Linked DNA regions of Homo sapiens: region 1 is linked to region 2. The links come from fine-mapping of genetic effects on gene expression. Tissue or cell type: tibial nerve. Region 2 holds a variant in brackets; the other region holds the start of a gene. All regions are shown on one strand. Distances are from middle to middle. Region 1 holds the start of LMOD1 (leiomodin 1). Region 2 overlaps LMOD1 (leiomodin 1).

The links. PIP is the estimated chance that this variant, and not a neighbour inherited with it, causes the effect.
Region 1: it holds the start of LMOD1, and the variant in region 2 is the best candidate, but not a certain one, in a credible set for the expression of LMOD1 in tibial nerve (GTEx, PIP 0.63).

Annotation. Positions count from the first base shown.
Region 1 is chr1:201,943,927-201,948,312 of GRCh38, forward strand. It overlaps LMOD1 (leiomodin 1), which reads right to left and starts at 2,622. Exons shown (of 3, transcript NM_012134.3): 1 at 2,154-2,622. The coding sequence starts at 2,414.
Region 2 is chr1:201,917,738-201,922,123 of GRCh38, forward strand. The region is part of intron 1 of LMOD1 (leiomodin 1); the gene reads right to left. Among named protein-coding and RNA genes, the nearest start is that of LMOD1, 27 kb to the right of the region's middle. The variant G/A (reference allele first, on the strand shown) is at 2,566.

The DNA of each region.
Region 1 (4,386 bases), 26 kb after region 2:
CCACACACTCACTATTTTGTTAATGGTGCCAAAGAAGCCACCTTCTAGGGTTCATTCTCACCCAGATTTACAGAGATGACTTCTGCCCAGGCTCAGCATGCACCCCGAACTCCAGCCAGCCATTATGCCAATGTACGTCCCTGGACAGGGTGAGGAAGAGTGAGGGGATCAGAACAGCCTACATCCACAAGGGAAAACCGGACCTAAAGGCATCTCCTTACATCAAGGATGTACACACAAACACACACACCACTTCTATTTCTTGACTCGGGCTCTGTCCGCAGAACCAAGTGTGGACCTGGCAGGGGTGAGAGAGGTGAGGCAGGGGAGGAGACACTTGTCACGGTATTAACTGGCTGAATAAAAAGTCTATGATAGTGAAATTTCCAGGAACAGGAGAATCCTTCACACTCTTGCTTGTGATTAGACTGCTTTGTTTGACTTCAGCCTCAGGAGTACCTTTCTGAGCACTGGAAGCTACCGGACACAAGGCAGTCATGGGCCCAGAGCCTGCGACTGGGAGTGGGGAAGAGCAGAGTCAACGATTTCCAAGGGTGCCAAAGCCTTTGGCTGCATTTCATTTCTTTCTGTATGATTCCTGATAGCTGTGTTGGGGTACCGGGCCCTCACAGTAAGTGCTACCACTTTTTCTGTAAATGTTTTGGTTTTATTTATCATTATCATAGCTGCATCTGGGGCAACCACCTTGTGCATACAGGACAATAAATTCCTGAGCCTCCTGGCTTCCCTCCTTCCTCCCTCCTTCTCCCTCTTCTTGGCAAAGGCTTAAACATAGGTGGTGGGGCGGGGGGGGGCGGTAGGGACAGAGACAGAGTTCCAGCTCCTCTTTGCTTCACCCCCTTCCCTCCTCCTCCCTTCTTTCCCATTGCTACACTAAAGGAGTCAGGGCTGTGTCCACCAATATGCTCTGTGACTAGCAGTCAACACAATTTCATACCCAGCCAGTCATTCCGCAGGCATTTTGGATGATAATGTTCCCATTCTCAGTTCCTCTGTGAGAATGTGCATGTCATTTGAAGCTCTGTGCCTCAGTTTCCATAGAAGTAAAACAAAAAGCAAGAATTGAGACTGATCTTTTTCTTGCAAGAATTCACAAGTAATGGATAATGTACAAGAGATGTGGCTGAATAAGAGAACTAGAACAAAGACTTGAACAATTTTCCTATGCAACACTCTTTCCCATGGACAAAGGTATCCCACAAAGTCATACTTCATCGGAGGCTAGTTTGTCCAAAGAAAACTCACATACCAATGCAATAGTGACAAAAAAAAAATTCCTCCATGCCAACTCAGGAAAACAGAAAGCAAGTTGTGCTTAAGCCCATTGTAGGTGTGGGCAGATGCTTCCAAAACCGTCACCCCTTTTCCCTCCTCTATGACTATCTTCAACCCCCAGCAAAGCGGCCTCGCCAGCTGCTAAAGGGTTAATTACCAAAAAGAGGGCATGCTCCCTCCAGAGGCTCCTCTGGAGAGTGCAAAAACAAAACAAAACCAAAAACCAACTAACCACAACAAAAAACATCTTCCCTGGGAATAAATTTGAAGCTTATCAGGTCTTTAAGCCACATTTCCCAGCCCATAGACTCCTGGTCCCTGTCTCCCTTTGCTTTGGGAAACTCATTTACCCCCAAGCCTCCTGAAATGATCCATGTGCCGTGAGATGCCCATAGGGTTGGGGACTTGAAAATGAGTTATTCTCCCACAAAAAATGGCTTAGCTTTGTCTTTTTGGGTGGCTGACAGGAGACATAAAGTATCACTCTCTCTTTTTACCCCTCCTCACAATAGGATGGAATGAGTGTGGAGAAAAACAAAGGTATTGTGGGACCAGGATGGAGTCAACTTGACAATGGACTCTTCAAGGACACCTTCCAGCTCCCATTCTACTAGTAGCTCTATTTGATTTTGTGGGATGTTGTGTTCCTCCAACATATCCGACTTCTGCTTATAAAACAGAAATTAGGAGTAAGAGATTCGCACCGCTAGTTCAGTGGATAATCATCAGTTCTGAAGCATTAAAATCCTTTGCCAACAAGAACGTTTCTTCTAAGGAAGGAAGCATCCTAATCATGAAGCCAGGGTCTCCAGCCCTCCCCTGTCTCCCTCCTCCCCTCCAGGGCTGTGCTCACTCACATCCATGGACATCTCCCTCTGCATAAGTTTCTTGGTCTCCTTTTCACAGAAGTTGAGCATGGCCTCCCGGTTGTACACACCCGTGGACTGTTTCTCCGTCTGGTTTCTCTGCCGCAGCCCCACGGGAACACTCCCGTCTGGGTCCACCACGTCCAGCTCCTTCTCCAGCTCCTCCATCTCCTCGGGAGACAGGGTCTCCAGCAGGCTGTCGATGTCGGGGTCTTCACTCACCTGCCGGCGATATTTGGCTACTCTAGACATCTTGGCAAAATGGGCTGTGGCTGCCAGGGGCTATCAGAGTCCTGGTGGGCAGGGAAGGGAGAGGGGTGAGCTGATCTGGATGCAGCGAGTGGGCTGAGGAGCAAACCTCCTGCTGGTCGAGGACTGCAGCTCCTTGGCCCTTCTGTGCTACAGGTGCTGAAGTGTTCACTGGACGCAGCAGCCTCCCTGAAGCCCAGGGCTAGTGGACCCCGGCTGGTCTAATCAGCGGCCAATAAGACCCGACAACTGCCAGGCCCGGAGAGGAGAAGCCAATCCCCAAGCTGGGGGCGGGCCTACCTCGCTGTCAGAGCTGTTTGAAACTTGAGGACATTCCAGGGAATCTTGGAGCGCTGCGTGACCAAATTTAGTACAGAGCAGTTTAGCCTTTTAAAGACAAGGGGCCACGCAATGAGAAAAAGATACAAAAATGCGTAGGCTGGCAGAAGCAGATCACAGCCACGGAGAGCCAGACAAGCAGGGACGAGGCCATGAGGGCCGGTGAACTCGCCAGCCCGGGGCACGTTCAAGAGCGTATTTTACTACTCCATCACCGGGTGGACGTATCACTGTGGTCAATGTGTGGTTCATGGACTTCCTTCTACAGTATTTGGTAATGTGCTGGGGGGCTCCCAGGTGTATACAGCTCCAGGAAAGTCTAGATTCAAGATGAGGAGCTGTTACTCCTAACCCCCTGCCTACCCATTTTCTTTCTACCCAGGTTCTGCCAAGGAGGACCTGAAGGCTGAGCATCAGAGGCTCCAGGATCCTTTGGCCACTTCTTAAGAGAGAGACAGGAGACAGAAAGACAAACTTAGAGATAGAGATAGCTAGGCAGGAGAGGGAGAGAGAGAGAGAGAGAGAGAGAGAGAGAGAGAGAGAGAGAGAATAAATCCTTACTGTGTACCAAAACTGAAAACTGGCAGGCTGTTTGGGAAAGAGAGAAGGATCTGCAGAAGTCGGGAAACTCTTAAAGGGCTGTCACTTTCCATGAAGTTCCAAGGCTCTTGGGAAGAGGGTTCAAACCTCCCCCTGTTGTCATCTGTTTCTTCCTCTGCCGGGCATCTGTAGACAGACCTCCTTTGGGAGCACAGAGGCAGGTCACCACCCACATATAAATCCAGAGCACGATTTAGTATGTCTTCAGGGAAACAGAATTCTGGGCCGTCGGGAGAGATACGATTGCAACAGGTCTGGCATGTTTCATAGAAGGGCTTTCCACTGCTCATCCATCATGCTGCCCTGCACAAGTCACAGAGACATTCAATCCCCTGCCCCCCTTCCTCCTGCCACAAAATCCCTTCTAGAAGCCCTGGTGTAACCCATCAGGGTAGATGCTTCGATCTTTCCTGGCATCTTTCCATCCTAAGCCAGAGAGAGACAGTCACTTGATCAGCATTTGCTGAGTCCAGGGATCGTCTGGGACTAAAACTTGGCCGTGCCATTTAATGTCCACTAGTCCAACTTTAGGTTAAGGCTGAAGAGGGGAATGGTGTCCACTGGGGGGACTGAAGGGCAGAAGGAAGGCAGGCAGACTTGATAGGAAGAGTGGAAGAAGACTTTAGGGAAACCTGGGGGTTGTCATTTTAAGAGTCAGTAGCCAACTTATTGGTCAAACCGTAGGTATATATTTATTGAGTGATTTATCAAGTGCCTATTATATATCAGGCATTGTTCTAAGAGCAAGAGATATCACTAAAGATACAAAATCAGGCCAGGTGCAGTGGCTCATGTCTGTAATCCCAGCACTTTGGGAGGCCAAGGCAAGAGGATTGCTTGAGTCCAGGAGTTCAAGAACAGGCTGGGCAACATAATGAGACCCCCATCTCTCCAAAAAAAAAAAAAAAACAAAATTAGCCTGATGTGGTGGTGAGCATCTGTTGTCCCAGCTACTCAGGGGGTTGAGGTGGGAGGATTGCTTGAGACCAGAAGGTTGAGGCTGCAGTGAGCTGTGATCACGCTACTGTACTCCAGC
Region 2 (4,386 bases):
TGGGAAATGTTGTAAAGATCTACACAAATGCAAGCTATTTGTCCCAGGCTTCTGGGTCCCACTTAGGTCCCGGAGGGTGGCAGAAGGAACATACTGTTCTTTTACTGCCTGGGGCTGTGAGCAGGAGGCCTGGCTTTCATACAGCCCCTCTCCTGTTCCTTCTAAACAGAAAAGGGTACATTGGCTAAAGCAGGAGCAGCTTTATGGTGTCTGACCTCTGCAGTGCTCCAGGGCCCCATGCTCAGAGGGCCCTACGCTTGGTTTAATTCTCTGCTGTCATCGTCTTGAAAGTTTTAGTAATTCTTGAGCACATTTTCATTTTGCGCTAAGCCCTGCAAATTCTGTAGCCAGTCCTAGGCCTAAGAGGCCAGGGATCAGGGATGGTGCAGCTCTCTGTCTTCCCGCCTTCTCCCTCTTCAGGAATGGCTCTCCCACCCCACAGACACTGGGACATCAGCCTTGACGCTTCCTTTTTCCCTCACCACGTTCCCTTCATCCCACCTTCCTAACATAGCTGAGATTAGCTTCCTCACATCCCCTCACCATTGCTGTGTTTGCGGCCTCCATCATCTCTTGCCTCCCCACTGAACCCCCTGCCTCCTGTCTTCCTTCTCTTTGAGTGCACTCTGTCTCCAGAAAGACCTTTCAAAATGTGATTCTGATCCATGGCTCCCATGCTTTCAGGATGAAGTGCAGACTTTGTAGCATGGCAACAAAGCCCTCCGTGACCTGGCCTGTGCCTGCCTCTGTGCGCCCTCCCCTTCCTGCCTGCACTCTGGTTACAGTGAGGAACAGCCACGCTGGGCTCTCTTGGGTCTTGCTGCCCTACCCCATGCTGGGCTCTCTTGGGTCTTGTTGCCTATGCATGCTGCTCCTGCCACACAGGATGTCCTCTCGCTTTCTTCTCTGCCTGGCTAACACTTCTTCTTTTGTTCCTCCTCCTTCTTTTTAACTTTATATGTGGAAAAGTTCGACTGTACAACAAACTAGAGAGAACAGCACAATGAACCTCAAGGTACCCATTGCCCAGCTTCAGCGATTCTCTACATATGGCCAATCTTGTTTCATCTGATGCCCACCCATTTTTGTCACAATCTCACATTATTTGAAAGCAAATTCCAGGTGTATCATTTCATGCATACATATTTCAGTGTGTACTCTATTTCTTTTTTAGGGACAGGGTCTCACTCTGTCACCCAGGCTGGAGTGTAGTGGTATGATCATAGCTCACTATAACCTCAAACTCCTGGGCTCAAGTGATCCTCCTGCCTCAGCTTTCCGAGTATCTAGGACTACAGGCATGTGCCACCATGCCTGGCTAACTTTTATTTTTGTAGATCTGGGGTCTTGCTATGTTGCTCAGGCTGGTCTCAAACTCCTGGCCTCAAGCAATCCTCCCGCCTTGGCCTCACTTTTGCTGGGATTACAGGTGTGAGCCACCATGCCTGGCCTCAGTGTGTATCTCTAAAAGACAGAAACTTTTTTTTTTTTGGGGGGTCAGAGCCTCAGTCCTTCACCCAGGCTGGAGTGCAGTGGTACTCACTGCAACCTCCGCCTCCTGGGTTCAAGCAATTTTCCTGCCTCAGCCTCCCAAGTAGCTGGGATTACAGGTGCCCACCACCATGCCCGGCTGATTTTGTATTTTTAGTAGAGACGGGGTTTCACCATGTTGGCCAGGCTGGTCTCAAACTCCTGACCTCAGGTGATCTGCCTGCCTTGGCCTCCCAAAGTGCTGGGATTACAGGCATGAGCCACCACGCCTGGCCCCTTTTCTTCTTTTTTAACCTGACTCTGTGTCAGAAAGCCCATTTGGTCCTGTTATTCCCAGGGACTGTATAAAGCAAGGTGACCCCTTCTCTTCTATGTGAGTGCTCTGTAGGTATTGGGTCCTCTCCCTGAGGCTGCTTTTCTGTGGGCTAGAAAAGTTCATCTGTTAGACTAAGCCTGCCATTCCAGCCTGACTAGAATTTTCTAAATCCTGGTTCTGCTGTTTAAAAGCTCACTGTGACTCTCAGCTTCAGATAATCTGCCAGTGTGGTACATGTGCCTTCTGGATCTTTTTGTCCACTAACCAGGGCAGACTCCAGGGCAGAACTCTCTGGTATCCTACTACAGGCCTCCAGGGAGCCACCAATCAGCATCCACCTGCATCACCTTCCAGTCCACATCTCTCCATCCTGGCCACTAAACTATTGTAAGCAGCCTTTTTCAGTGTCTTCCTAAAGTCTCCAGAAGAGCCCAGGACTTCAAAGAGTAGAAGGAATATATTGGCTTCAATGCCATCTCCACCCGCCACTGGCTCTCTCTCTTTTTTTTTTTTTTTTTTTTTTTTTTTTGAGACCAAGTTTTGTTCTTGTCACCCAGGCAGCTGGGGTGCAATGGCATGATCTTGGCTCACTGCAACCTCAACCTCCGGGGTTCAAGTGATTCTCCTGCCTCAGCCTCCCAAGTAGCTGGGATTACAGGCACCCACCACCACGCCTGGTTAATTTTTGTATTTTTAGCAGAGACAGGGTTTCTCCATGTTGGCCAGGCTGGTCTTGAACTCCTGACCTCAGACGATCC[G/A]CCCGCCTCAGCCTCCCACCCACCATTGACTCTCTGACTGGGGATTACTACCCCAGTAAAATGACATACTTTCCCAGGCCTTGTGAATTGTTCTGGAAAGACATCATGCTACAGGGTCAATACAACTCCTAAATGCAGCTCCCTTTTAGCAGCTGAGGCCCTTGGAGACACCGGTTTTTCCTATGCCAAGGCCACAGAGACCAGAATTCCACTTGCTTGCTGAGGAAGTCAATCATAGTTGAGAAATAGCTGAGGAGTAAGCTGAGTCTTTAAGCTCAAGGACAATTAGGAGGTGGGTCTGGATATTCTACTGGAAGGGAGAAAGAAAAGCCAAGACCTACTGGGAAGACAGGGAGCAAACAAGGATGTCAAGCCATTAAATCAAGGAGGCCAAGTGGCCTCTACACAGTGCAGGACCCAGCGAATATAGAATAGGGGGTGGGAGGCTGGGCGCGGTGGCTCACGCCTGTAATCTCAGCACTTTGGGAAGCCAAGGCAGGAGGCTTGCTTGAGCCCAGGAGTTTGAGACCAGCCTGGGCAACATAGTGTGACCCTGTTTCTAAAAATAAAAATAAATAAATAAATAAAAAAGTAAGAAAGAAGAGAAAAAAAGAAAGGAAATGATGAGATCTTGGACCAGGCTGAGCAGTGAACACAGAGGAGTGGAGATGCATTCCATGGACATTTCTAGGGTACAGTTAATAAGATTCAGTGAAGTGGACAATGCCGAGGAGAAGTGGAGGATGACTCCCTGATTTCCAGTTTGGTTGCCTGGTTAGAGAGTGATGCTTATAACCATGGCGGGGAATATGGAGCGGGGAGATGAGGGTGGCACTTGAGATGATCAACTGTTTTGGCCATGACAAAATTTAAATGCCTAACAGGTTGGCATTAATAAAGATCTGGGCTGGGCGCAGTGGCTCACACCTGTAATCCCAGCACTTTGGGAGGCTGAGGCGGGCAGATCACGAGGTCAGGAGTTCGAGGCTAGCCTGGCCAGCATAGTGAAACCCCATCTCTACTAAAAATACAAAAATTAGCTGGGCATGGTGGTGCGAGCCTGCAGTCCCAGCTACTCGTGAGGCTGAGGTTGGAGAACTGCTTGACCCCAGGAGGTGGAGGTTGCAGTGAGCTGAGATTGCACCACTGCCCTCCAGCCTGGGCGACAGAGTGAGACTCCATCTCAAAAAAAAAAAAAAAAAAAAAAAAAGATCTGGGGCTCAGAAAGGAGATCTAGGCTTGACAGGTAGGTTTGGGAGTCATTGGTGTATACGTAGCAATGAAAACCACGGGAGTAAATATGGTGACTCTGAAAAGTGAGTTATCAGGAAGAGGAAAGGGACTTACAGAATAGGTCAAGAAAATCACCGCATTATGGCCGGATGCAGTGGCTCATGCCTATAATCCCAGCACTTTGGGAGGCTGAGGCGGGCGGATCACGAGGTCAGGAGATCGAGACCATCCTGGCTAACACAGTGAAACCCCATCTCTACTAAAAATACAAAAAATTAGCCAGGCGTGGTGGTGGGCGCCTGTAGTCCCAGCTGCTCGGGAGGCTGAGGCAGGAGAATGGCGTGAACCCGGGAGGCAGAGCTTGCAGTGAGCTGAGATCATGCCAGTGCACTCCAGCCTGGGCGACAGAGTGAGATTCCATCTCAAAAAAAAAAAGAAAAAGAAAATCACCACATTATTTAATGAAACAAAATCCATGCCCTTTGAGATTGGCAAAACCGTGATGAGATATACTTCACACCTATTGGGTGTCTATAATCAAAAAGACAGACAATAATAAGTGTGGACAAGGATGTGGAGAAATTGGAC